7 linked regions of the Homo sapiens genome follow. The protein of the gene in region 3 purifies or fractionates together with the protein of the main gene of each other region. This does not show direct contact. Each region holds a gene or a part of one and is shown on either strand. Other genes may lie near its edges. The genes, in order: NSRP1, IARS2, CHORDC1, PLBD2, TOMM34, CEP120 and KDM4B.

Region 1 (3,500 bases), on a different chromosome or scaffold from region 3:
ACAACAGGCGCCCGCCACCACGCCTGGCTAATTTTTTGTATTTTTAGTAGAGACGGGATTTCACCGTGCTGGCCAGGATGGTCTCAATCTCCTGACCTCGCAATCCGCCCGCCTTGGCCTCCCAAAGTGCTGGGATTATAGGCATGAGCCACCGTGCCCAGCCATTTTATTTTTTGAGATGGAGTCTGGCTCTGTCGCCAGGTTGGAGTGCAGTGGCGCTATCTCAGCTCACTGCAATCTCCGCCTCCCGAGTTTAAGCAATTCTCCTGCCTCAACCTCCCCAGGAGGTGGGATTACAGGCATGTGCCACAATGCCGAGCTAATTTTTGTATTTTTAGTAGAGACAGGGTTTCACCATGTTGGCCAGGATGGTCTCCATCTCCTGATCTCATGATCCACCTGCCTCAGCCTCCCAAAGTGCTGGGATAACAGGCGTGAGTCACTGCGCCCAACCTACTTTATTTACTTTAAATTAATTTAAGTAGCTACACGTGACTAGTGCCTACATACTAACAGTGCAGTTCTAGCCCCGATATGTAAGTCTTACATTTTAGGAAGGCTGGGTTCTATTTATGAAAACAAACCACTTTCCTTTTTATACACTATCTGAACATGTATATAAGACTTATATTGTAGACACCTAATTCTTTCCAACTTTCTCCTTAATTCTGACAGCAAAATCATTTTAAGGTACCAGGCACCAATCATTTTAAGGATCATGAGGAATACCCACATTCTTATTTAAAAAAAAAAAAAAAAAAAAAAAAGCAGCCAGGTGCAGTGGCTCATACCTGTAATCCCAGCACTTTGGGAGGCTGAGATAGAGGGGGGATCCCTCAAACCCAGGAGTTCAAGACCAGCCTGGGCAACATAAAGCCCCATCTCCACAACAAAAATACAAAAAGAGGCTGGGCGTGGTGGCTCATGCATATAATCCCAGTACTTTGGGAGGCCGAGGCGGGTGGATCACCTGAGGTCAGGAATTCGAGACTAGTCTGGCCAACATGGTGAAACTCCATCTCTACTAAAAATACAAAGATTAGCCGGGCGTAGTGCATGCACCTATAGTCCCAGCTACTCAGGAAGCTGAGGCACGAGAATCCCTTGAACTTGAGAGGCAGAGGTTGCAGTAAGCAGAGATCGCGCCATTGCACTCCAGCCTGGGTGACAGAGCAAGACTCCATTCCATCTAAAAAAAAAAAAAACAAAAAAAAAAAACCACACACACAACAACAACAACAAAAAACACAAAAAGAAAATTCGCTGGGCATGATGGCTTGCACCTGTAGTCCCAGCTACTTGGGAGGATCATTTGAGCCCATGAGGCAAAGGCTGCAGTGAGCTATGATTGAACCACTGTACTCCATCCACCCTAGGCGACAGAGTGAGACTCTGCCTCAAAAAAAAAAAAAAAAAAGAAAAAAGAAAAAACTACAATTTGATTTTGCTTTCCCTTGAAGATTTTGCTCTCCCTTGTTAAGACCCATAAATCACTTAAAAATTCAGAAACTTTATACATTAAAAGTCTGTCTTTGGTTTTACAATAATATTAAACTCAATCACTGTTTTAATGTAACAATTTCTGTGAAATGCAGAATAAAAATGATCTTAAACTAAATCTGTAGGTTTTAAAATCAAGAAACTGCAAATTTCTAGCCATTCATTCAGTTAGGTAAGGCTGGCTGACAACACAATATGCAATGTTGTAATCTTCCATCTTTCAGAGGGTTAAAATGACCCCACAACCACAGATTATTAACAGTATTTTTCTTCAAAATATTTCATACACGTCTCCTCACCTGGCTTCACGAAAGCTGCATTTAGGTACTTCCTCTTCACCAACTGCTTGATTTAATAGGTGCCTATAAAATCCACTGAGATCTTTCTGCTTGGTTACATCCAAACATGCTAACAGAGGGAAAGCAAAAATTAGAATATATTCAATAAGGCACAGTGCAGTTTCATTTTACAGACATACAGTATATAACATACAGTGTGTAAACTACTCGCTGGATCAGGAGTTGGCAAACTGCAGGCCAAATCTGGCCTGTTGCCTGTTTTCATAAATAAATTTTTATTGAAACAAAGCCCTGTTCATTTATGTATTGTCCACAACTGCTTTTGTACTACAAAGGCAGAGCTCAGTAACTGCGACAGAGATCATATACACAAAAAGCCCTAAAGTATGAATATGATCTGGCATTCAAAATATGAATTTATAAATTTAAAGTCTTAAAATATGAATACTAAAATACTATCTGGTCCTTTACAGAAAGTTTGCCGACTGGCACTCTAAACACATAGTACATGCTTAGACAGAATGTTATAGACTTGGTTTTCTTCTACTTAAAAGCTGAAGAGGATGGGCGCAGTGGCTCACGCCTGTAATCCTACAACTTTGGGAGGCTGAGGTGGGTGGATCACCTGAGCTCAGGAGTTCGAGACCAACCTGGCCAACATGGTAAAACTCCGTCTCTATAAAAATATAAAAATTATCCAGGTGTGGTGGTGCATGCCTGTAATCCCAGCTACTTGGGAGCCTGAGGCATAAGAATCACTTGAACTTGGGAGGCAGAGGTTGCAGTGAGCCAAGATCATACGACTGCACTCCAGCCTGGGCGACACAGCGAGACTCTGTCCAAAAAGCTGATGAGCATTTGTCAATTAAAGTATTTACAGGGCTGGTCATGGTGGCTCACACCTGTAATGCCAACACTTTGGGAGGCTGAGGCAGGAAGATTGCTTGAGCCCAGGAGTTCGAGACCAGCCCCGGCAACATAGTGAGACCCCGTCTCTACAAAAAATACAAAAAGTAACCAGACGTGGTGGTATGTTCCCGTAGTCCCAGCTACTCAAGAGGCTGAGGTGGGAGGATCACTGGAGCCTGGGAGGTCAGGGCTGCAGTGAGCCATGGTTGAGCCACTGCACTCCAGCCTGGGTGACAGAGACCCAGTCTCAAAAAAAAAAGTATTTTATAAATACATATTCTACTTAGATCTTGAGAAATAATCATGAGTAGAAAGCACTAAGGTAAAGCATTAAGATATTCTTAATTCATCCAATTTTTATTCTTTCTTCAATTAATGTTATTCTTTTTCTAATTGCCTCATTGATCCTCCTTGAGTGGTGTTACTCTATTATTTTCTCATCCCAAAAAAATGTAACTAGGGTTTAAAATTATATTTATATTGTTTCTGACAAATGCCATGGCGTTATACTTTGTAATAAATGTTTTTACATTTCAGATCATGTTCTAAGGCAAAAGCCACAAAATGAGAACTAAGAGAAAAGTCTAGTAGAAATAATAGTTACTGAAGAGTTCAACTGTGTTTTTAGTTAAACTTTCCTTTCTGTTTTATACTGCTATATAATACCATATTCCTTGTGTCTTGAATTCCTATATATAAATTATGATCACAAACTCATAACCCTAAAGTTCAGTGACAGAGCAAACAGCTAACCACAGGGGAGAGATTCTGCTACTGTTTCCTTGTGCCTTT
Region 2 (3,500 bases), on a different chromosome or scaffold from region 3:
CCCGGCTAATTTTGAAAAAATATTTTACAGAGATGAATTCTTGTTGTGTAGCCCAGACTGGTCTGGAATTCCTGGGCTCAAGTGATCTGCCTGCCTTGGCCTGCCAAAGTGCTGGGATTAAAGGCGTAAGCCACTGTGCCTAGCCCAAAATAATTCTTTGTGAGCTATAATTTGGGACTTTTGAGGTAGTGACTGCTTTGAAATATAATTATGGAAGTCTAGGGAAGTTTAAAATTAGCTTTTTGTTGTTGTTGTTCTTCATTTTGTTTTGAGACGTGGTCTTGCTCTGTTGCCCAGGCTGGAGTGCAGTGGTGCCATCTTGGCTCACTGCAGCCTCTGGATCCTAGGCTCAAGTGATCTTCCTGCCTCAGCCTCTTGAGTAGCTGGGACTACAAGTGTGTGCCACCATGCTGGACTAATTTTTAATTTTTTTGGTAGAGATGAGGTCTTGCTACATTGCCCAGGCTGGTCTTGAACTCCTGGCCTCAAGTGATCCTCCTGCTTTGGTCTTCCAAAGTGCTGGGATTATGGGCATGAGCCACTGTGCCTGGACTAAAATTCTATTTTATTTTATTTTATTTTTAAAGAGATGAGGTCTCACTATGTTGCCCAGGCAGATCTTGAACTCCTGAGCTCAAGTGTTCCTCCTGCCTCTGCCTCCCAAAGTGGTAGGATTATAGACGTGAGCCACCATGCCTGGGCTAAAATTATCTTTGATCCTTAGGTATGATATATCTTTTAATTTCTTGCTAAAAAATCTATCACATGAATAAAGATACAAAAACTGCCTAGAAAGACTGCCTAGCTAAATAGGAAAGCCCTCTAAATTAATCAGTTCAGATACAAGCCAATGAGAAGTTTAAACAACCTTAACAAAAATAAAAAGATTTTTATGTCAGAGGCAGGAAAGGAGCTTAAGAATTTTGAAGACCATTTGGTCCTCTTTGGTGCAATAGGGTAATAAAAATAAAAACCAAGATAATAATTTACTTCACACCCTCTCTCACTGTGTTGCCCAGGCTTGTTTCAAACTCCTGGGCTCAAGCAATCTTCCTGCCACAGCCTCCCAAAGTGCTGCAATTACAGACATGAGCTACTGCACCCAGCCCCCTGCTCTTTTATAAATGCAGAGGATATTAAAGACTTCATTGTCAAGTTATACATTATCATAGAAGCTAAAAATCACAAGATTTTTGAAAGTGTTAAGGTTGAATTTAAAGATCTTTTGTCTAGATAGCATAATTGTTTCAAATTCTTACTATCAGATAATTATTGAGTTGCTATTTGAGTCACCATATTGTGGAGGAGTATATATATTATCCCTGTCAAAATAAGCTGGTGTCACGTAGCTACTACTTATTAAAGTAGTAGGAATGTTGAAGAGCTAAAAATGAAGTAATTTGTATGGGGTAGGTTTTCTTTCCGGAAAAAAATGAATTATTTCTTATCAATTACTTAGAGATCATTTTGGGAGGGTGGTGAGGGAGAATATTAAGTGGTAGATGCAGTAAGTATCAAAACACTTAAACTACATTAACTCTGTTTATTCTCACAGAAACCCTCTGAGGTGGGAACCATAATTATCTGCATTTTATAGATTATAGAAGGTCACAGAACAAGTTAAAGGGGAAGCTGGAATTTAAGCCTAGCCAGTATTGTTCTAGATTCTGCACATTTAACCTGATACTCTATTGCTAAGCTTAAGGAGATAGATTTGCCATATAAAATGATTCTTAATAGTGGTTTTCTTTCCCCACAGGTGTAGATTTGGAAAATGGTACTTGCAGTCATCCATTAATTCCTGATAAAGCCTCTCCTCTTTTACCTGCAAATCATGTGACCATGGCAAAAGGAACGGGATTGGTTCACACAGCCCCAGCTCATGGTATGGAAGACTACGGTGTAGCGTCTCAGCACAACCTGCCCATGGTACTGTTCCTCTTTTATCATTTTTAATTATTCATCTTAATAAAAGGAAATGATAAATTCTAACCAACATCTTCATTTTTTAAAAATGATGACTTTTGTCATCATAATTGTGAAATGCTCAGGTTTGTGTAGTACTCTAAAGTTTCATTAATTCGTACTAATTGAAAAAGATTTCCCAGAATTAATAGAAAATTAGCACTTTAGAATTGAAGAATATATATCATGGGGCACTTTTAAAATACTTTTTTTCTAGTATCAAGTCACATAGACAAATTACTTTTATTCCCTGAAAAAGCCTGTTTGTTTTAGCTAAACAGTCCTTTCTACATTTACTTTACATACTTCAGTTACTTAGCAAGTATTTCCGTTTAGTTAAAAGGTGAGTCAGAAAGGGAACAACTGTGTATATAGGCATAGATTTGGAAACAATAGAGACCACTCAAAGATGTTTTAATATATTTTGTTACTTTTGTTATTAAAGTTTATGGATATGCTTCAATAACACATTTTGGCTTTGGTGATTTAAATGTATAAAATTCACAAATTCCTATTTCCTTTTCTTTTCTTTTCTTTTTTTTTTTTTTTGAGAGGGAGTCTTGCTCTGTCGCCCAGGCTGGAGTGCAGTGGTGTGGTATGATCTCGGCTCACTGCAACCTCTACCTCCAGGGTTCAAGCGATTCTCCTGCCTCAGCCTCCCGAGTAGCTGGGACTACAGGTGCACACCACCATGCCTGGCTAATTTTTGTATTTTTAGTGGAAGTGGGTTTCACCATGTTGGCCAGGCTAGTCTCAAATTCCTGACCTCAAGTGATCTGCCCACCTCGACCTCCCAAAGTGCTGGGATTATAGGCCTGAGTGCCGCGCCCGGCCAAGTACCTAGAATTTCAATGTAGAAAAAGACCAGGCTATACTGAGATGTTTTTATATATATTGTTTTGCCAGATATTGTCATAAGAGAAAATGTCTTGATATTTTAATTGTTCAAAATGATACTTTATAGGATTGTCTAGTGGACGAAGATGGAGTTTTCACAGATGTTGCAGGTCCTGAACTTCAAAACAAGGCTGTCCTTGAAGAGGGAACTGATGTGGGTGAGCATCATATCTGTTGATATCATACATGTTTTCTGAAAAGTAGGTAGCAGTAACCTTTGCTACCTATTTTCCCTCCTTATACTTTAACAGAAACAAAAAAATAAATTATGTCTTGTTTTGCCATATGTTTTAAAATGGAGTTTGGGACTTTTTCATCTTTTGCTTTGAAGCTGCTTTATTTAAGCAAGTCAGGGCAGTCAACAGGGAGTGAAGTTATTTTAGGGCTATGGAGATAATAATCAGCAGTATTACTTTTGTGGAAGGATACAATCAAGATCAGGGCTGGATGTTGACTGTAAATTACACATTCCCTACTCACTTTTTAACCCTTGTAAATAACTGACCTATATGGCATGATTTATGTATTAGAATCTTGGGAATCCTCCAGCCTTGAATTGTCTTTCTGTCTTCCTTTACAGATTCAGAGACCAAGTGCTATGAAAACCTTTCTTTGCCCACACTAAGACTAAGGCTATT
Region 3 (3,060 bases):
CCAATACTGTATTGTTTCATATGAGAAAAGCCACTGACAAAAAAGAATAACTGGCTTCAAGTTTCATATTGAGAACTAAGTACTATATTACTTGATAAATCTACTACAGTATCTCCAGAATGGTTCAGCAGTAAGTCTACTATACAGAAATTTTCATTTAAAATAGTTTCATAGAAGTAATTTAATTTTTTTTAATGGGAGTCATTATAAAATCTTACCCCCAAATCAGCTGAGATATAAACAATACTTTAAAATACAGTAACATAAAGAATGATGTATAGAAAAGAACTTTTACCCAAAATTATAAGATGTACTTACCAATGTGCTATTTGCTTCTACTCGGCTAAGTTCTGGAAGTGAGTTTTTAGCATATACTGAAATGGTAACTTCACCTCCAGTCTGATGCCAGTCATGTCTACATGGAACAACTTTTTTCCCCTGTAATGTAAGAGAAACTCTGTAAGTTAAAAAAGTGCCACATAATTAATTTCTTAAAAAGAGGAATTTGACCCATCTGAGAAAAAACTACCATGCACAACAACTAAGCACTTAATGTTTAAGGGCAAAAAACTTCTATATTTCCCAAGAGGCTTAAACAAGAAAATATATCATGGTACAAAGATTCTTCATAAATTTTATGATTTCAGAACACACTTACTCCTTCCCTTTGTTTTTTTCTTTCAGGGCCATAATATTGATACACAGCTAAAAAGACAATTTAAGAACTCCTACTAAATTTAATCCAATTTAACATTCTGTAACCTACTAAGTACTGTCATCAAAACATTCTTTGAAGACTGAAATGAAAGACATTTGTTTACTGGGATAAATCAGACAACACCTTAACCTCATGCACTAGAAACCTTATTTATTTTCTACAAATCAGAATCTAAGAAAAAAATCTGACCAGTTATTACTTTCTTCCCATTTTAATAAAGAACAAATGATTTTTGGATTTTCTGATTATGAAAATAATCCTTACATACCAGTAGTATACTATACTGCCCTACCAGTATTTTTTTTTATAGAGGCAAATGATGATTTGTTATATAAATGAGAACAATTTAGTTACATAATTCAGGAAACTGAGACACTACTGTTGTAAAAGGTACTATTTTCGTTTTGATAAAATTACATTAACTAAATTTAAATTATATATATCACTCACATTTTTCCCCTTAGCTACTAGCTTAGATACTTAATACTTGATAACTGCATACATTAAAAAACAAGAGAAATTACATCATTTTATCTAGGATTATACTCCCAAACTTAACATAATGGAAAACAACATTTTATTTTTTCAAACTAAAATTTTCAAACTTTTGGACTATAAAAAATACACTCTTTTTATTTAAAAACATTTCTGATAGTTTTGTGGTAGATGAATTTTTATAACTTCAGGGTATTTTTATAATATCCAACCATGTGTTATTAAAAAGCAACTAGGGCCAGGCGCGGTGGCTCACGCCTATAATCCCAGCACTTTTGGAGGTCGAGGCGGGTGGATCACGAGGTCAGGAGTCCAAGACCAGCCTAGCCAAGATGGTGAAAACCTGTCTCTATTAAATATACAAAAAAATTAGCTGGGCGTGGTGGTACGCACCTGTAGTCCCAGCTACTAGGGAGGCTGAGGCAGGATAACTGCTTGAACCCGGGAGGCGGAGGTTGCAGTGAGCCTGCACTGCACGTCTGGGCGACAGAGCGAGACTCTGTCTCAAGAAAAAAAAAAGTGGGGGAGGGGCAGCAACTACAGAAGACTAAAATATTGAAATCTCTAAATTAATTTGAAAATTTAATACATTATAAAATACATTAACAATAGCTAACAGACAAAAACTTATTGAGCAATAAGTTGCTCATCCTCTCACAATTTAATGGGGTTTTGGGAAATTATTTGCATAGCCCCCAAGTCTTTTTAAAAAGCTGTCCAGGGAAGTAGGAAATGATGCTTTTTTCCCCCCTTTTGATAAATATCCCATTAGCAAGCAGAGGCATTCAAAACAATTCCACTGAAACAAGACTGCAATCCTCCTCTCTGGCCACTAGATGGAGTGTTTGTGCATCTGTAAATGATTGAAGTTTTAAGTGGCCAAAAGAATAACAGAGGTCTAAACGTTTAACGTCATCAAATTCATAGAAAAGTAATTTTTAAAAAACAAAAAGTAGGAAGAGGCCATGGAGCTAATTTTATTAATTAAAGAAGACAAAAATTCTTCAATTTTGTCAGGCTTAAGTATTTCACAAAACCTCACATGCTTGCATCAAAACAGACAATGGCTATTTTGCTCAAAAGGCAGTACACTGGCAGCTTGACTCAGATTCATTTTATTTCGTAGTCACATCAAAGCTCTATGGTGCAAAAAAGAAAACTTTTTTTTAAAATCTAAAGACAGAATAATTTCAAATCTTTAAAAAATGACTCAGATGAATATAAACCCAGTGTGCTATTTTTGGAAGAGTTACTTACAGCATCTTTTTTAGTCCACATGTGTTTCCCTTTTGTACAGCCCTCTTGGGCTAAGAATGTATTAAAATCAGAAGTTTTTCTTCTACAACAGCTCCAGTATTTCATCCTTTAAATTATCACAGAAAAACTTCAGAAATAAAATCTCACAACCAATTAAATCCACAAGTATTTTAGGGATAAATCTGATTTTTAATAAGCCAGTAAGTGTACAAACTCTAGCATTTTACAAGTGTCTAAGTTACTAAAAATGAATGTACAGTATATCAGGAAGAATGTGGAAACAGAGTGGAAGATTTTTACACAGTGCTGCATTTCTATAAACTAGAGCATAATACAGAAGAGAGGCTCTCAACTGCAGGATGCGGAAAAGTATGGGTCGTCTTGGGATAATGTTGTCTTAGTGCCCCAGGGCCCAAAATTCTAAATGCCCTGCAATGTGTAGGACAGTCCTTCAAACAAAACATTTAGCCCAAATAGCATCACTTTTAAATACAGAATATGAAGAAAAACAGGCAGTTTATATCACAATGACCACTTAAGAACTGTAACCTTGTTTCTGTTTTCTCATGTATAAACACACAACATACAAA
Region 4 (3,500 bases), on a different chromosome or scaffold from region 3:
TGGCTGTCATCTGCATTTGATAAGAACTATACCTCCTTGCCCCCAACACTCCCCCACAAACCTGAGTTGAGTTAGAGGCGCAGAGCATTCACTCAAGAATGTTAGTCTCAGCTCTGCTGCTCACCTGCTGTGTGACCTTGGGCAAATCACTTCATCTAACTGTATTATGTGGGAGCCTCGGTTCCCCACATCTGTAAAATGGGAAGAATAAAACCCATGTCATACGGTTGTTGGAAGAATTTTTTTTTTTTTTTTGACAGAGTCTCATTCTGTCACCCCGGCTGGAGTATAGTGGCACAATCTTAGCTTACTGTAACCTCCCGGGTTCAAGCGATTCATGCCTCAGTCACCAGAGTAGCTGGGACTACAGGCACGCACCACTACACCCAGCTAATTTTTGTAGTTTTAGTAGAGACGAGGTTTCACCATGTTAGCCAGGCTGGTCTCAAACTCCTGACCTCAAGTGATCGCCCTCCTCAGCTTCCCAAAGTGCTGGGATTACAGGCGTGAGCCACCGAGCCCTGGCCATTTTTGGAAGAATTTAGAGTTACATAAAAATGTAAGTACTTACCACAGTTTCTGGGGCTACTGTAATTCCCTGTATCAAGGCCCCACTAAAGATCCCCACAGCCCCACCCTGCTGGCCCCAAAGTACTTTGCTTTGGAACATTCAGAACTCAGGCTTCTTCCTTTTACTTTCTCTCTTCTCTTCACCTGGCAAACTCCTATGTAAACTTCAAAACCCAGAACAGCTGTCACCTCTTCTGTGATGCCTTCACAGATTGTAGTCAGATAATTGTAGCAGCAGCAGTATACCTCCTCAGGACAACCCCTTGACACTTTATTCGTTTTTCCATCATAATGGTTACCCCGTTATGTCCTTATCTGTTTTCATGCCTTTCCCCTCTGCTGCCACTAGCATTTTGAAGGCCAGATGAACATCATTCATCCTTAGATACCCTCAATGTCTGGCAGCCAGTAGGCACTCAAAAAGGCTTGCTTACTGAAGGTATCAGATGTGGGCATTTTTGAGTCTTTCCCTCTCCAGAGTCTTCTCCAGGGCTGAGCTATTCCTGTCCTGGAAGTGTTCGATGGCTTTTTAGCCAACTTCCCACGAGACAGCCCTGGCCAAGCCTGCCTCTCCCTGTCTTGTACCCTCTTCAAGGTCTCTTTAGCGTCTTCCTGTTGCCCTCATTTTCTTAATAGAAATTGCCTTTAAAAATGCTTCCCCCCGCTAGTTATAGAAATGACATGAGTGAATATTTTTGTGTCCTTGGAGCAAAAATGATATCTAGCACCGTGAAGGAAAAGATTGATCTGGTTACACAAAAATGAAAACGTCTATATGGCAAGAACAAATGCAAAAACCAATTAAAACACAAACATATTTTCTCTTATTATTATTTTAGAGAGAGGGTCATGCTCTGTCATCCAGGCTGGAGTGCAGTGGAATGATCATAACTTACTGCAGCCTCAAACTCTTGGGCTCAAGTGATCTTCCTGCCTCAACCTCTTGAGTAGCTGGGACTACAGGCACACCCCACTGCACCTGTAACTTTTAAATTATTTCGTGTAGACAGAGTCTTGCTTTCCCAGGCTGGTCTTGAACTCCTGGCCTCAAGTGATGCTCCTGCCTTAGCCTCCTAAGGTGCTAGGATTATAGGCATCAGCCACCTGGCCTCTCCCCACTCCCCTCCTTCCCTCCTCCTCCTCTCCCTCCCTCCCCCTTCCCTCCCCTTCTTTTTTCTTTTTCTAGACAGAGTCATGCTCTGTCACCCAGGCTGGAGTGCAGTGGTGCCATTTTGCTCACTGCAACCTCCGCCTCCCAGTTCAAGCGATTCTCCTGCCTCAGGCTCCTGAGTAGCTGGGACTACAAGAGTGTACCACTACACCCAGCTGATTATTCTATTTTTAGTAGACATGGGGGTTTCACCATGTTGGCCAGGCTGGTCTCAAATTTCTCGAATTCTTGGCCAGCCAAAGTGCTGGGATTACAGGCATGAGCCACTGTGCTTGGCCCCGTATTCTCAATGTTAGTGACAAGCAGAGGGCTAATGTGTATACAGGGAATTTCACCAACCAATAAGAAAAGATTTTTAAAAACCCAATAGAGAAAAATGGATAAAGGACATGAAACAGAGAAATATAAATGACCAATAAAAATAAGAAAATATATGTAACTCAACTAATTTAAAAATTGGAAGCATGTTGGAACTTCTGCAGCTATCACCTTGGTAAAGATGAAAAAGTTTGCTAGTAATCATTTTAGTGAGGGAGTGGGCAAACAGAAGTTTGCTCATTGTAGAGACTCAGTCTGTGACCTGCTATGGTTCCAGGACTGGCAGTGTTGGCATTACCTGGAGGCTACTTAGAAGTGCAGAGCCCGGGCATAGTGGCTCATGCCTGTAATCCCATCACTTTGGGAGGCCGAGGCAGGTGGATCACTTGACGTCAGGAGTTCAAGACCAGCCTGGCCAACATGGTGAAACCCCGTCTCTACAAAAAATACCAAAATTAGCTGGGTGTGGTGGCACATGCCTGTAGTTCTAGCTACTCAGGAGGCGTAGGTGGAAGGATAGTTTGAGCCTGGGAGGCCGGAGGCTGCAGTGTGCCAAGATCATGCCGCTGCACTTCAGCCTGGGTGACAGCAAGATGCTGTCTCAAAAAAAAAAAAAAAAAGAAAAAAGCCCTGGTGCAGTGGCCTTAAGCTACTGTAAAGTATCTTAACAAAGTGCCTGTAATCCCAGCACTTTGGGAGGCTGAGGTGGGCGGATCTCTTGAGGCCAGGAGTTCTAGACCAGACTGGCCAACATGGTAAAACCCTGTCTCTACTAAAAATACACAAATTAGCTGGGTGTGGTGGCTCACACCTGTAATCCCAGCTACCCCGGAGGCTGAGGCAGGAGAATCACTTGAACCTGGGAGGCAGAGGTTGCAGTGAGCTGAGATCATGCCAGTACCCCCCAGCCTGGGAAACAGCCAGACTCTGTCTCAGGAAAAAAAAAAAACAAGAATCTCAGACCCCATTGCAGAACTGATCAGAACCTGCCTTCTAACCAGGCCTTCAGGTAACCTGCATATATACATCAGAGGTTGAGAAGTGCTCCTTCAGAGGAGTGGGAGCCAGCCTGCCTGGAAGTGAATCCTGCCCCTGCCAACTCTGTGACCTTTCACATGTATCCGCTAGTATTGGGCAGCAGTGCTGTGTGATAAACCAGCCCCAATCCAGCAGCTTAAACCAACAACATTGATTCTCATGGATCCGTGGGGCTGCTGGGGCAGCTCTACTTCATGCTGCAGCTCTACAGACCTGGTGTGCTTGTGTGGCTCTCATATCCCTGGGACCAGTGGGCTGGCCGGGGCTTGTTCTTCCCATGGTGATGGCAGAGGCACAAAGGGGCAAGTGAGGCTTCCTGAAGGCTAATCTTATAACTAGCATGCTGTCACTTCCACCCATATCCCATTGGCCAAAGCAGGTCACGTGACACAACCAAGCCCAA
Region 5 (3,500 bases), on a different chromosome or scaffold from region 3:
TAGCTAGAAGAACAAACATGGGAAAATACTAGGAATGCTCTGATTAAGAAGAATGAAGAAAAGACCAGCCCTATAAGATATTATAAAGCAAAAGCAATTAAAACAGTGTGGCACAGACACCTGCATGAAGAACAGTATCTAAACAAGACAAAACACAGCTCCAAATATGGTAATGATCCAGAAAAATGAGTTAATGGAGGTGTCCAGCAGCATAAGGTAAGCAATGTGAAAGAGGGTCCAGAGATAGAGGAGTTAGAAGATGCCACACAAATATGGAACAAATAGGCTGCAGGCTTCTTTTTCAAATTAGCCTGGCAAATTGTGGCCCCTCTGGTCCAATCAGCAATAAAACCACATAAAACCACAGGTGCAAAATTCCAAAATATAAGCTTTAAAACTACAAGTTCTCTTTCCAACTCATTGGGCAGCAAAACCTGATCTGAACTGACATGAAGCTATTTAGTTTCTCTATTCCACCCCATGTGAACATGGAATTTTCAAGTTTCACTGGCAGAAATACTAATAATTAACTTCTGCAAGCTGCCCCAGACACTGCTGGGGTGTTACATAATTCAGACCATATTACCTCACTAAAATGGAAAACACTTCTTTTTTTTTTGTGACAGAGTCTCGCTCTGTCACCCAGGCTGGAGTGCAGTGGCACAATCTTGGCTCACTGTAACCTCTGCCTCCTGGGTTCAAGTGATTCTCCTGCCTCAGCCTCCTGAGTAGCTGAGATCACAGGCATGTGCCACAGCGCCCAGCTGATTTTTTGTATTTTTAGTAGAGATGGGGTTTTGCCGTGTTGGCCAGGCTGGTCTCAAACTCCTGACCTCAAGTGATCCTCCCGGAGCCTCAGCCTCCCAAAGTGTTGGGATTACAGGCATTGAGCCACCGTGGCTGGAAAACACATTTTATCTCAAGAGTTTGGAATAAGGAACAATGTGTCTATATTAGATCCAAGATTTTTGAACTAGAGAGTGATATGTGTATGCTGGTAGGGAAGGATAAACAGATTTCTAACATTTTATAATGTTTTATACTAAGCATTTGGTTTTGATATGGTCTCTTGCTGAATGTTTCAAGCTTCTGAGAGTAAAAGTAACAGGAAGATCTTGTTGAAGTCAGATTCCAATTCTTGTGCCAACATTTACTGGCTGGCTGAGTTTAAAGCAAAACCCTTCCTTCTCTGAGCCTCAATTTTCTAAACACTAAAACAGAAAGACCACCTATACGAGCATTGTTGGAGAACAATCACTCCTACACAGTGAAGGGACCGCACCCTGGCTCCCAGGTTCTCAGTCAGTGGTCACTGACGGCAGCTCCTGGTGCAGGACTTTCTACAGGCCCACAAGTCTAACCTTTCAGGCTAGACTGTACCCATCCTTCCTGCTCTCATGCCAGGCAATGGTTACTTCACATTTTGGCTTCTGGGCCAGTACTCTCAGACAGAAATGGTGCCAGAATTTCTAACAGGAGGGTCTTGGAGAAGGGTAGGGAGCAGCGTAGCGTGGTGGGGTGGACAGGCTAAGAGACTTGTGTTAGGGTTGTGTTTGCAGAGCAGGCACACTGCTTTTAGTTACATTGCATGCTTATGAAAATTCTGGGGACAGGGGCCAACAAAGCCCAGGCTACCATTTGGCATCCCTCAGTTTCTACCCTTTTGAGAGAATGAATGCCACTGGTCATGGCTAGCTCACAACGTGGATGCATGTTTTCAGCCATAACATACTTGACTAAATGCTAGGGATGAAGGGCCCATTGCAGTCCAAGAGAAGACTATGGAACAAATGTCCTGAAATGCCCCAGGCCAGCAGCTGTATAGGAGATACCTGTTGCTGTACGTGGCAGATTCCAGGTTACTACACAAGAGGCTTTCACTGTACTTCTCAATAGCTTTCTTATGGTTTCCCTTCTTTACAAGCTCATTGCCTTCTTCCTTCAGAACTCTGGCTTTCTCCACATCCCCAGCAGAAGGCACTAGATACAAATTCAGAAGAGGAAAAAAACCATGGAGCAGCACCCAACTGAGATCAGTGAGGTCTCTTCAGCATCGTCCCTTCCAAACTGACTACAATCCTCTCTCCCAGAGATTTCCTCCCCTGCTGTAAATCATCCTTCCTGATTAATGACTTCCCCCAATTAATAGCTTCTGGGCAATTCAACAGTTTTTCATCAAGAAGTTGGGGAATCCTGATATAAAAACATTTTTGCATGCACATAAAAATATATAAATGATAAAAAGCAACCCAGGTTCTAGCCTTGGCACTGCCTCTTGGTAGCTGGAAGATCTTGTGTGACCTACCTAACTTTTGGACCTCAATTTCCTCACCAATAAAATAGGGCAATACTAATTCCACAGATGGCTATTTTCAGGGTCAAATCTGAGAGTATGTAAGAAAGTACGGAACACACTATAAACTTAAAGCAGGACAATAAGTAAATAAATACTAATAAACAAATATCTGGTAAAGAAAAGGTATAGCTTCTGGGCTATGAGAAAAGGGGAGAAGAGCCTGCTATTCCTCATTTCTGGTTTGGGCTGAGCCTGTGAGTATCCTCCCTCATCTAACACATGCAGCTCTGCTCCAGCCTTCAAGGAGAGGAAGCAGAGGGAACATGGTGAAATCCAAGCTGCTCAACTTGGTGTTCAGGCCCTTCACTGCTTGGCCCCAATTAATTATTCCAGCCTCAGCTCCATATCATCTGCTTTTCAAAAATTTTTAAAACTATCTTTATAAAATACTAAATATTTATGACCAGGGTAAGATTATAGGTTTACACCCTGAATTCATTGCCTGGTTTAAGAAAAAGAACATAACTAGGACCTTTGAAGTCCTGGGGGACCTTCCTCAATTCAATCCACTGCTGGAGGAAACTATTATCCCCAATTCTGTGCTTCTTCCCCACCTTTTTAAACAGTATAACTATATACAACAGTACCCACAGATCATTTGCTGTTTACTTTGTTTTTGAACTTCATACAGAAGAATAAGTCTGTGTATTCTTTTATGACTTGGTTTTTCTTTTTCCCCTTAATGTTATATTTCTGAGATTCATCTGTGTTGATGCACAGACCTGCAGCTCCTTCATTTTCATTGCTGCAATACCAAAGCTGAATTGTCCATTCTCCCATTTATGGAGATCTGGGTTATCTCCAGTTGTTTTTTGCTATTACAGTCTTCTACGAACATTTGTGGGTACATCTCCCTGTGCACATGCACACAGGTTTCTCTTGAAGTAGGGCTTCAGCTTCACTGGCACCCTGCAACACACCACTCTGCAGTCATCCTTATTCCTACTGTTCCCCCCATGCACTTTCATTCTCCAACTCTCTCCACTGTCTCTGCCAAGGATTCTCCTTCCTTCCCACCTGATGACCTTCTTCAAGGTCCAGCTCAAGGCTCCACCTCCATTGCCACCCCTTCTGAGTCTTTCCCCGACTCCCTCATGCACTTAAGTCAGTTTCTATCCTGAAGTCCTCAAACACTAAGACTCTA
Region 6 (3,500 bases), on a different chromosome or scaffold from region 3:
CTTGACTGATACTCGAACAAAAGCCTTCTTACAGAATGAAGCATCCTAAATTATTTGAATATCCCCACTAGACCAACCTCAGAAATTCTAGTACTCAAGATAGCCTGAAAAATATCATGCCTACATATATTATTAGGGCAGGAACCACTGATCAGTGGGAATACCATTTCAATACTTGGAAACAGCATTTTTTACTCTGATCATTTGTTATATAAAGATATAGTAGATGGTGCTTATATTGTCTTTGTTATATAAAGACATAATAAATGGTGCCTATACTGCTATTTTATATTCAAGTCATGTTTGATAAGTAAAATAGAATTAAGTAGGCCAAAGCTTTAAATAAAAATCAACAACCTAATTTTTTAAAGATAAAAATGCATAATACAGTTTGTTGATGTATTTCTTATAACAAATATGTTATAATTTTGAATATAAGCCTGAAAGAAAGATTTCCAGCTACTCAGAGAATTGATGACTTTTTCTGTTATATAACTCAGAAAAATAAATCTGGATTTTTTTCTGTTTATATTTATTTACAGAGAATCAATTTATTTTGAACTTCAAATATTGTACTATCCAATTACAAATATTTATGCTGACAAACAGGAGAGAATAAGCAATACAGCATTTAGTTTAAATAACTGAGCCATTTCTCCCTTTGATTACAAATATGTTGACAAACTGTTCTCAAGGACAAGGGGACAAAGAATGCCAAGAGTATTTAGAGGCATGACCTCATCCCTCAGATACCCCCCTAAGAGGATTTACCTTCTCTGCAACTAAACTGACTGCAGAAGTGTCTTCTAGACACTTGCACGCTACATGAGAGAAGGTGGTTAAGAGAAACATCAAGAGCCCAATCAAAGCCCAGGGTCTAAAACTAAAGAAGGAAAAACCTTTTCAGAATAAGATCTAGTGGCAGAGAGGCAGTGAGTACCAAGGATGGGGGGAAAACAAATCCTCTTTTAAAGCATTTTTAAATTTCAGTTTCTTTTAAATTATTCCAACCTTGGGCTAGGCTGACTGATCATATGCAAATATCCTTGCTATCAGCAGCAAAAATATTAGTAAAAGATAAGTTTTTCTTCACAGAATCCCAATTTAAGATTCAAATCAAGAATGGCGTTTTAAATAAAAGAGAAGATATTATTTTAATTGTTTAACTTTTTTCCCCCCTTAAGAAAATTATGACCCAAGACAATCAGAAAAATTGCAAGGGAGATTTCTAAAGTCGGTCACATACAAAAAGGTCAGAAGATACTTAAAGCGCTAAGCAGCGGCCGGGCGCGGTGGCTCACGCCTGTAATCCCAACACTCTGGGAGGCCAAGGCCGGTGGTTCATGAGGTCAGGAGATCGAGACCATCCTGGCTAACACGGTGAAACCCCGTCTCTACTAAAAATTCAAAAAAAAAAAATTAGCTGGGCATGGTGGCGGGTGCCTGTAGTCCCAGCTACTGGGGAGGCTGAGGCGGAAGAATGGCATGAACCCGGGAGTCAGAGCTTGCAGTGAGCCGAGATCGTGCCACTACACTCCAGCCTGGGCAACAGAGCAAGACTCCATCTCAAAAAAAAAAAAAAAAAAAAAAAAAAAAAAAGCCCTAAGCAGCACCATGTTAAATAATAAAAGTCACCATCACAGGAATCAGGATGATTCTGAGTTCTTTCTCTTGGGAGTAGGGGGGCAGAGAGGTACTGGTTAGATAACATCAACTGTGTTTCAATAAGTTCACTTGCTCTGACTGCTATGCAAGGAATGCAAGGAGCAGGAAGCAGGGAGGCTATTATGATAGCCAAGGTAAGAAACAATAGCAGCTGAGTTTGGGGTGGCAGCAGTGAAAAGCAGAATAGCAGACAGATCAGGAGGGAAAAAACCCAACTGGGAACAGGTAGTTATGGAGGAAGGAAAAGGAAAAATGTCAAGGAAGACTTCTGTATTTCTAACTTGTATAACTGAAAGGGGAATGCTGACAATTCACTGAAGCAGGAAACATTAGAAGAGGATGAACCACCTTTAAAAGGAAAGCTCAGGGGCTAGGCATGTTAAGCTTCCGGTAATAGCAACTTGGATACAAGTCAGTTCAGAGATGTCTTTTTGAGCAAGACAGTTCTTGGTCAAGGAAATCACTAAAATGTTGAGATTTTCTAAATCTAATTCATAAACTAAAACATAAGAACTGCCATATTGGCTGGGTGCAGTGGCTCACACCTGTAATCCCAGCACTTTGGGAAGCCAAGGCAGGCAGATCACTTGAGGTGAGGAGTTTGAAACCAGCCTGGCCAACATAGCAAAACCCCATCACTAAAAATACAAAAGTTAGCCAGGCGTGGTGGTGAGTGCCTGTAATCCCAGCTACTCAGGAGGCTAAGGCAGGGAGAATTGCTTGAACTTGGGAAGCGGAGGTTGCAGTGAGCCAAGATTGTGCTATTGCACTCCAGCCTGGATAACAGAGACTCCGTCTCAAAAAAAAAAAGAACTGCCATATTGGCTCAAGTCTATGACTGATCAGGTCTAGTATTTCATGTCCTTTTCATCAATCTGTTATCTACTGAAAATAATCGACTGTCTAACATAATCATTAGCAAAACATCAAAAGGGCAATACCTGCTTTGTTTCTTGAGCGGTTCTTAAATCCAGAACGATGTAACCTATGGTTTCCTTGGCTGAAGTTACAGGATCCAAGGCAAAACATTGGAGTTTGATAGGAGTACGCTGTAGCCTATAACAAAACATGTGATAAATAAAATGGTTTTTGCTTAATAAACTTTCTATTGGCCTTGAAAATATTTCCTATTATCAAGATACTTATAATTTTGTTGGATAAAACTGTAACTATTTTACATTGTCTAAAAAACTCTTCAACAGGCAAGAACTAGGCCAGGCGCAATGGCTCACGCCTGTAATCCCAGCACTTTGGGAGTTCGAGGAGGGCAGATCACGAGGTCAGGAAATCGAGACCATCCTGACCAACATGGTGAAACCTCATCTCTACTAAAATTAAAAAAAACAAAAAAAAATAGCTGGGTGTGGTGCCACGCGCCTGTAATCCCAGATACTCAGGAGGCTGAGGCAGGGGAATTATGTGAACCTGGGAGGCGGAGGTTGCAGTGAGCCGAGATCGCGCCACTACACTCCAGCCTGGGTGACAGATCAAGACTCCATCTCAAAAATAAAAATAAAAATAAAAATAAAAAAAATAAACAGGTAAGAACTATTAATTATATCTACTAACCTCTACACCAACTAAATATTATACAAAACATGTCAACATATTTTACATTCTTTCATCTAAGAAGCCATCATGTAGGTCAATGTTTCTTAAGCTTCTGTAATGTGTAAAACTTTCTGAAAGTAAAAAATTATCATGAATTTTCAGGACCTATTTTATTTCTCTTATACTGTAACATACATAAAATTACAAATACAAATACATGCTTATAGCTCTTTTGTAGCTAAAAAACAAACAGGAATTAAATATAAAATAAATTAAAATTTAAA
Region 7 (3,493 bases), on a different chromosome or scaffold from region 3:
GACCAGCTGTGCTGGGGCGGCCGGGACCCCCTTCCAGCAGAGGTGCAAGAGGAGGGGGTGGTCCACGCCATTGGAAGACGCAGTCTGTGCCCTGCCTCGTCCCAGACGGGCTCCCTGAGTCACCCGGAGCCACCAGGCCAGCCTCGCGCACTCACCAGCCGAGAGCGGACCCTCTTGGGCAGCTCCTCCTCCAGGGTGAAGATGTCCCCACGCTTCACCGTCAGCTGGGACCCGTCCTCAAACTCCACCTGCAGGGGGATGTGGCTCTCAGGGGCCTGGCACTGCCAGGATGGCAGGTGCTCCAGGCAGGCCACGGCCTCAAGAGCTGGGAGGCCAGCCCCCTTGGGTGCATGGGGCCCGCTAGAGGCCACATGCAGCCAAGCTGAAGCTCATGTCCACCTCTGACACCGCCTGCAGCAAACAAGGATCAGGCTGAGGGTCCCGTACCACGGGGCAAGGATGACGGAGGACGGGACAGCCTGGGGCAGAGGCAGGGCCCCGCAGCTTCCACATGGAGACAGAACACTCACCCCTCACCTCCTCCCAGCTCAAAAGACATCTGTCTCCATGAAGACACAGCCCCAGGACAAGGTGACAGAGTCACTGGTGGACACAGAGCCAGGCAGGAGGCGCAGTGCCCTAACAGGGCCTGGGAGGCAGGGGAGGCCGGACAGGCGGACTCAGGGGCCTGAGCTCAGGAGCCCCCAACCAGAAGGTGAAGGACAGGGTCCCTGGCTTATGTGTGGCCCTCTGAAAACAGCTCAGTCACCTCTTCCCTTCAACTCAGAGAAAAATCACCCCCTTCCAGCCTCCCCAGCTGGTGCCTTGTTCCAGGTGGCAGATGCCTGACTGGTGAGGGGCACTGGGAGCACCCCGCTTCCTCCTCGTTAAGCTTGGTGCCAGCTCAGGCTCGCGGAGACTCTCTCAGGGGCCCTCTGGCAACACAACACTGTCCCATGAAGGGCGTGCCAGGGAGGGGCGTGTCTCCAGGCCCACCTCATAACTGCGATGGGCGCCGTGTTCCCAAGCCAGGAAAGGTGCTGGGGTCACTCCCTGGGCCTGACTGCCGTTCTGCTCCAGGGGGAGAAGGTTCCCATATCAGAGGGCTCGCTTTTCACATTTAAAAACTCAAAACAAGCCAGGCATGGTGGCATGTGCCTGTGGTCCCAGCTACCCAGGAGGCTGAGGTGGAGGCTGTAGTGAGCTCTAATTATGTCACTGCACTCCAGGCTGGGTGACAGATCAAGACCCCGTCTCAAAATGAACAAAATGCACACATAAGACTGTCACAGAAGCGTACAAAAGTCACACACTAAGACCATGACGGAAGTGTATAAAAGTCACACAGTAAGACCATCGCGGAAGTGTGTCTGGGGCTAGACGCCCCACGTAGTGTGCAGCGGGGGGGCCCGGGATCGCAGCACCTCCCTCTCCAAGGGAGCACAGACCCTGCCTTGGGGCAGCCAAGCCTGCCGGTCCCTGTGACTCCTCCAGGGATGGGTGGGGATGGAGACAGACGTAGGCCCTGGAGCAAGTGTCTGCTGTGGGTTCCACATGCCTCTTGGCCGGCGCAGGCGGCGGGAGAAGCAGGGCTGGGAGTGCCCAGTGTGGACTCTCAGATGGCCGGTTGCCTCTGGGCCGTGTCCTGGGACGACAGCACACATCTCTCGGGGATGTGTGGAGGAGCCTGCTGGGAACCAAGGACATGGGTGCCACCCTCTGCCCCGTCCTACCCATCTCATTTGTAGAGGAAAGCCACCGGGAGAAGGCCCCTTCCCAGCGTCTGTCCGGTGAGGAGAGTCTGGGTGAAGGAGTCCTAGTGTCGGAGCCCCAGCACCCCGGAAAGCGATTTCCACCCCCGGCGTGGCCAGGCTCCGCTTTGCCACGGGCAGCAGCGGGTTTTGGAGGCTCCGCTTTGCCAAGGGCAGCAGCGGGTTTTGGAGGCTCCGCTTTGCCACGGGCAGCAGCGGGTTTTAGAGCTCCCACTGCAGGAGTCCCAGGGCCCACCTGCTGCCTTTCCCCAGCTCCCCGGCCCCGACTCGGCCTCTCGGCTTCTGGCAGGCGTGGCACACAGTGATTCAGTCAGGCACAGAAGCAGCCTTGCCAGGAGGGGAAGGCGCGTTCTAGAAACTCAGTGGAAACTGGCTCAGGTTTCTGGGTCAGGAAGACTGCAGAGATCCGCCCCAGATTCTCAGGAGCACAGAACCGCCTAGGAGGATGGCGCTCACACTGCCGGGTCCAAGTGGGCTCCAGGGAAACTTCTGTGCCTGGGTCATTTGGGAACTGGGGGCTGACTGGAGACTCAGGCTGATTTCCTCCCAGTGGCCTCCCTGGAACGTGCTTTCACTATGAGTCTCCACAGGGCGAGTTCTGAAGGCGGCGTTTGCTTTTTAACATTTTGAGAAAACTGGATATACTTGCAGCTACAGGAAATCAGAGGCGTGCGCCTCGGCCCGGGCTCCCTGTGGTGACGTCTTGCCCGGCACGTCTCAGAAGCATCTCGAGGGGTCACGTGCGAGGGAAACATGTTCCAAGTGTTCCGGACAGGCGGGGAGGCTCTTGGGGCCTTGGCATGTGGGGGTCTCAGCCACTCGGCCTCGCTGTCACCTGGGCCCACCCCAGCCACCCGCCCCGCTGACCAGGCCCTTGGCCTCGGGGCAGGCAGCTCCAGCCCCATCTCCTTGGCCACCACACAGCGGGCGTTTGCATGATTGTGTGATCGAGGTCCTGCCGCCACCTCGCAGGCAGGCGCGCACTCCACGGTGGCTTGCTGGCTTCCGATACCACCCATTCCTGATTCCACAGCCTCTGCCCCCCCGCCCCGAGCACTCTGGAAATGTGACTTTTTTTTTTTTTTTTTTTTGAGACAGGGCTTTGTTTCATCACCCGGGTTGGAGTGCAGTGGCGCGATCTTGGATCACTGAATCCTCAACCTCCCAGGCTCAAGTGATCCTCCCACCTCAGCTTCCCAAGTAGCTGGGACTAAAGGTGCGTGCCACCATGCCCAGCTAATTTTGTTTTTTTGTAGAGACAGGGTTTTGCTGCGTTGCCCAGGCTGGTCTCGAACCCCTGTGCTCAAGCGCTCTGCCCACCTCAGCCTCCCACAGTGCTGCGATCACAGCATGAGCCCCCGCGCCTGGCTGGCATCATCTCATTTCTGACTGTCTCATTAGCTCGGCTTCCTTGAGGTGAGCTCCCCTGACGCTGGCCCTGCCTGGGCTCTGGTGACATGACAATGATCCTGGGAGCACTTCCTTCGCCACCAGGGTGGGGGCTGCGTCAGCGCCTCTTCTGTGGGATGTTGTCAAGACCCACCCTGAGTCTCCCTTGTCATTTTCCACCACAGTTGTGCTCTGTGTACGTTATAAATGGCTATTTATCTATTTGTGTGTTTTCTATCATCTCCATAGGTTTCTTGAGGGAGGGAGAGAGACTGGCACATGCTCAGCCTGATCTCTGGAGTAAACTTCCATGGTGTTCTAGAGGTCCTGGC

Evidence for each region.
Region 1: the proteins of CHORDC1 (region 3) and NSRP1 purify together in Homo sapiens (affinity purification with mass spectrometry; one large-scale study listed by BioGRID and IntAct). This does not show direct contact.
Region 2: the proteins of CHORDC1 (region 3) and IARS2 purify together in Homo sapiens (affinity purification with mass spectrometry; one large-scale study listed by BioGRID and IntAct). This does not show direct contact.
Region 4: the proteins of CHORDC1 (region 3) and PLBD2 purify together in Homo sapiens (affinity purification with mass spectrometry; one large-scale study listed by BioGRID and IntAct). This does not show direct contact.
Region 5: the proteins of CHORDC1 (region 3) and TOMM34 purify together in Homo sapiens (affinity purification with mass spectrometry; one study listed by BioGRID and IntAct). This does not show direct contact.
Region 6: the proteins of CHORDC1 (region 3) and CEP120 purify together in Homo sapiens (affinity purification with mass spectrometry; one large-scale study listed by BioGRID and IntAct). This does not show direct contact.
Region 7: the proteins of CHORDC1 (region 3) and KDM4B purify together in Homo sapiens (affinity purification with mass spectrometry; one large-scale study listed by BioGRID and IntAct). This does not show direct contact.

Annotation. Positions count from the first base shown.
Region 1 is NC_000017.11:30,179,316-30,182,815, reverse strand, and holds part of NSRP1 (nuclear speckle splicing regulatory protein 1), read right to left. Parts: intron 1,909-3,500; coding exon 1,800-1,908; intron 1-1,799. UniProt on the Homo sapiens protein: RNA-binding protein that mediates pre-mRNA alternative splicing regulation.
Region 2 is NC_000001.11:220,104,132-220,107,631, forward strand, and holds part of IARS2 (isoleucine--tRNA ligase, mitochondrial precursor), read left to right. Parts: intron 1-1,759; coding exon 1,760-1,929; intron 1,930-2,929; coding exon 2,930-3,020; intron 3,021-3,500.
Region 3 is NC_000011.10:90,202,990-90,206,049, forward strand, and holds part of CHORDC1 (cysteine and histidine-rich domain-containing protein 1), read right to left. Parts: intron 2,577-3,060; coding exon 2,471-2,576; intron 439-2,470; coding exon 319-438; intron 1-318. UniProt on the Homo sapiens protein: Regulates centrosome duplication, probably by inhibiting the kinase activity of ROCK2. Proposed to act as co-chaperone for HSP90. May play a role in the regulation of NOD1 via a HSP90 chaperone complex. In vitro, has intrinsic chaperone activity.
Region 4 is NC_000012.12:113,365,087-113,368,586, forward strand, and holds part of PLBD2 (putative phospholipase B-like 2 isoform 1 precursor), read left to right. Parts: intron 1-3,500. UniProt on the Homo sapiens protein: Putative phospholipase.
Region 5 is NC_000020.11:44,946,898-44,950,397, forward strand, and holds part of TOMM34 (mitochondrial import receptor subunit TOM34), read right to left. Parts: intron 1,981-3,500; coding exon 1,833-1,980; intron 1-1,832. UniProt on the Homo sapiens protein: Plays a role in the import of cytosolically synthesized preproteins into mitochondria. Binds the mature portion of precursor proteins. Interacts with cellular components, and possesses weak ATPase activity.
Region 6 is NC_000005.10:123,413,404-123,416,903, forward strand, and holds part of CEP120 (centrosomal protein of 120 kDa), read right to left. Parts: intron 2,722-3,500; coding exon 2,607-2,721; intron 1-2,606. UniProt on the Homo sapiens protein: Plays a role in the microtubule-dependent coupling of the nucleus and the centrosome.
Region 7 is NC_000019.10:5,147,113-5,150,605, reverse strand, and holds part of KDM4B (lysine-specific demethylase 4B), read right to left. Parts: intron 249-3,493; coding exon 156-248; intron 1-155. UniProt on the Homo sapiens protein: Histone demethylase that specifically demethylates 'Lys-9' of histone H3, thereby playing a role in histone code. Does not demethylate histone H3 'Lys-4', H3 'Lys-27', H3 'Lys-36' nor H4 'Lys-20'.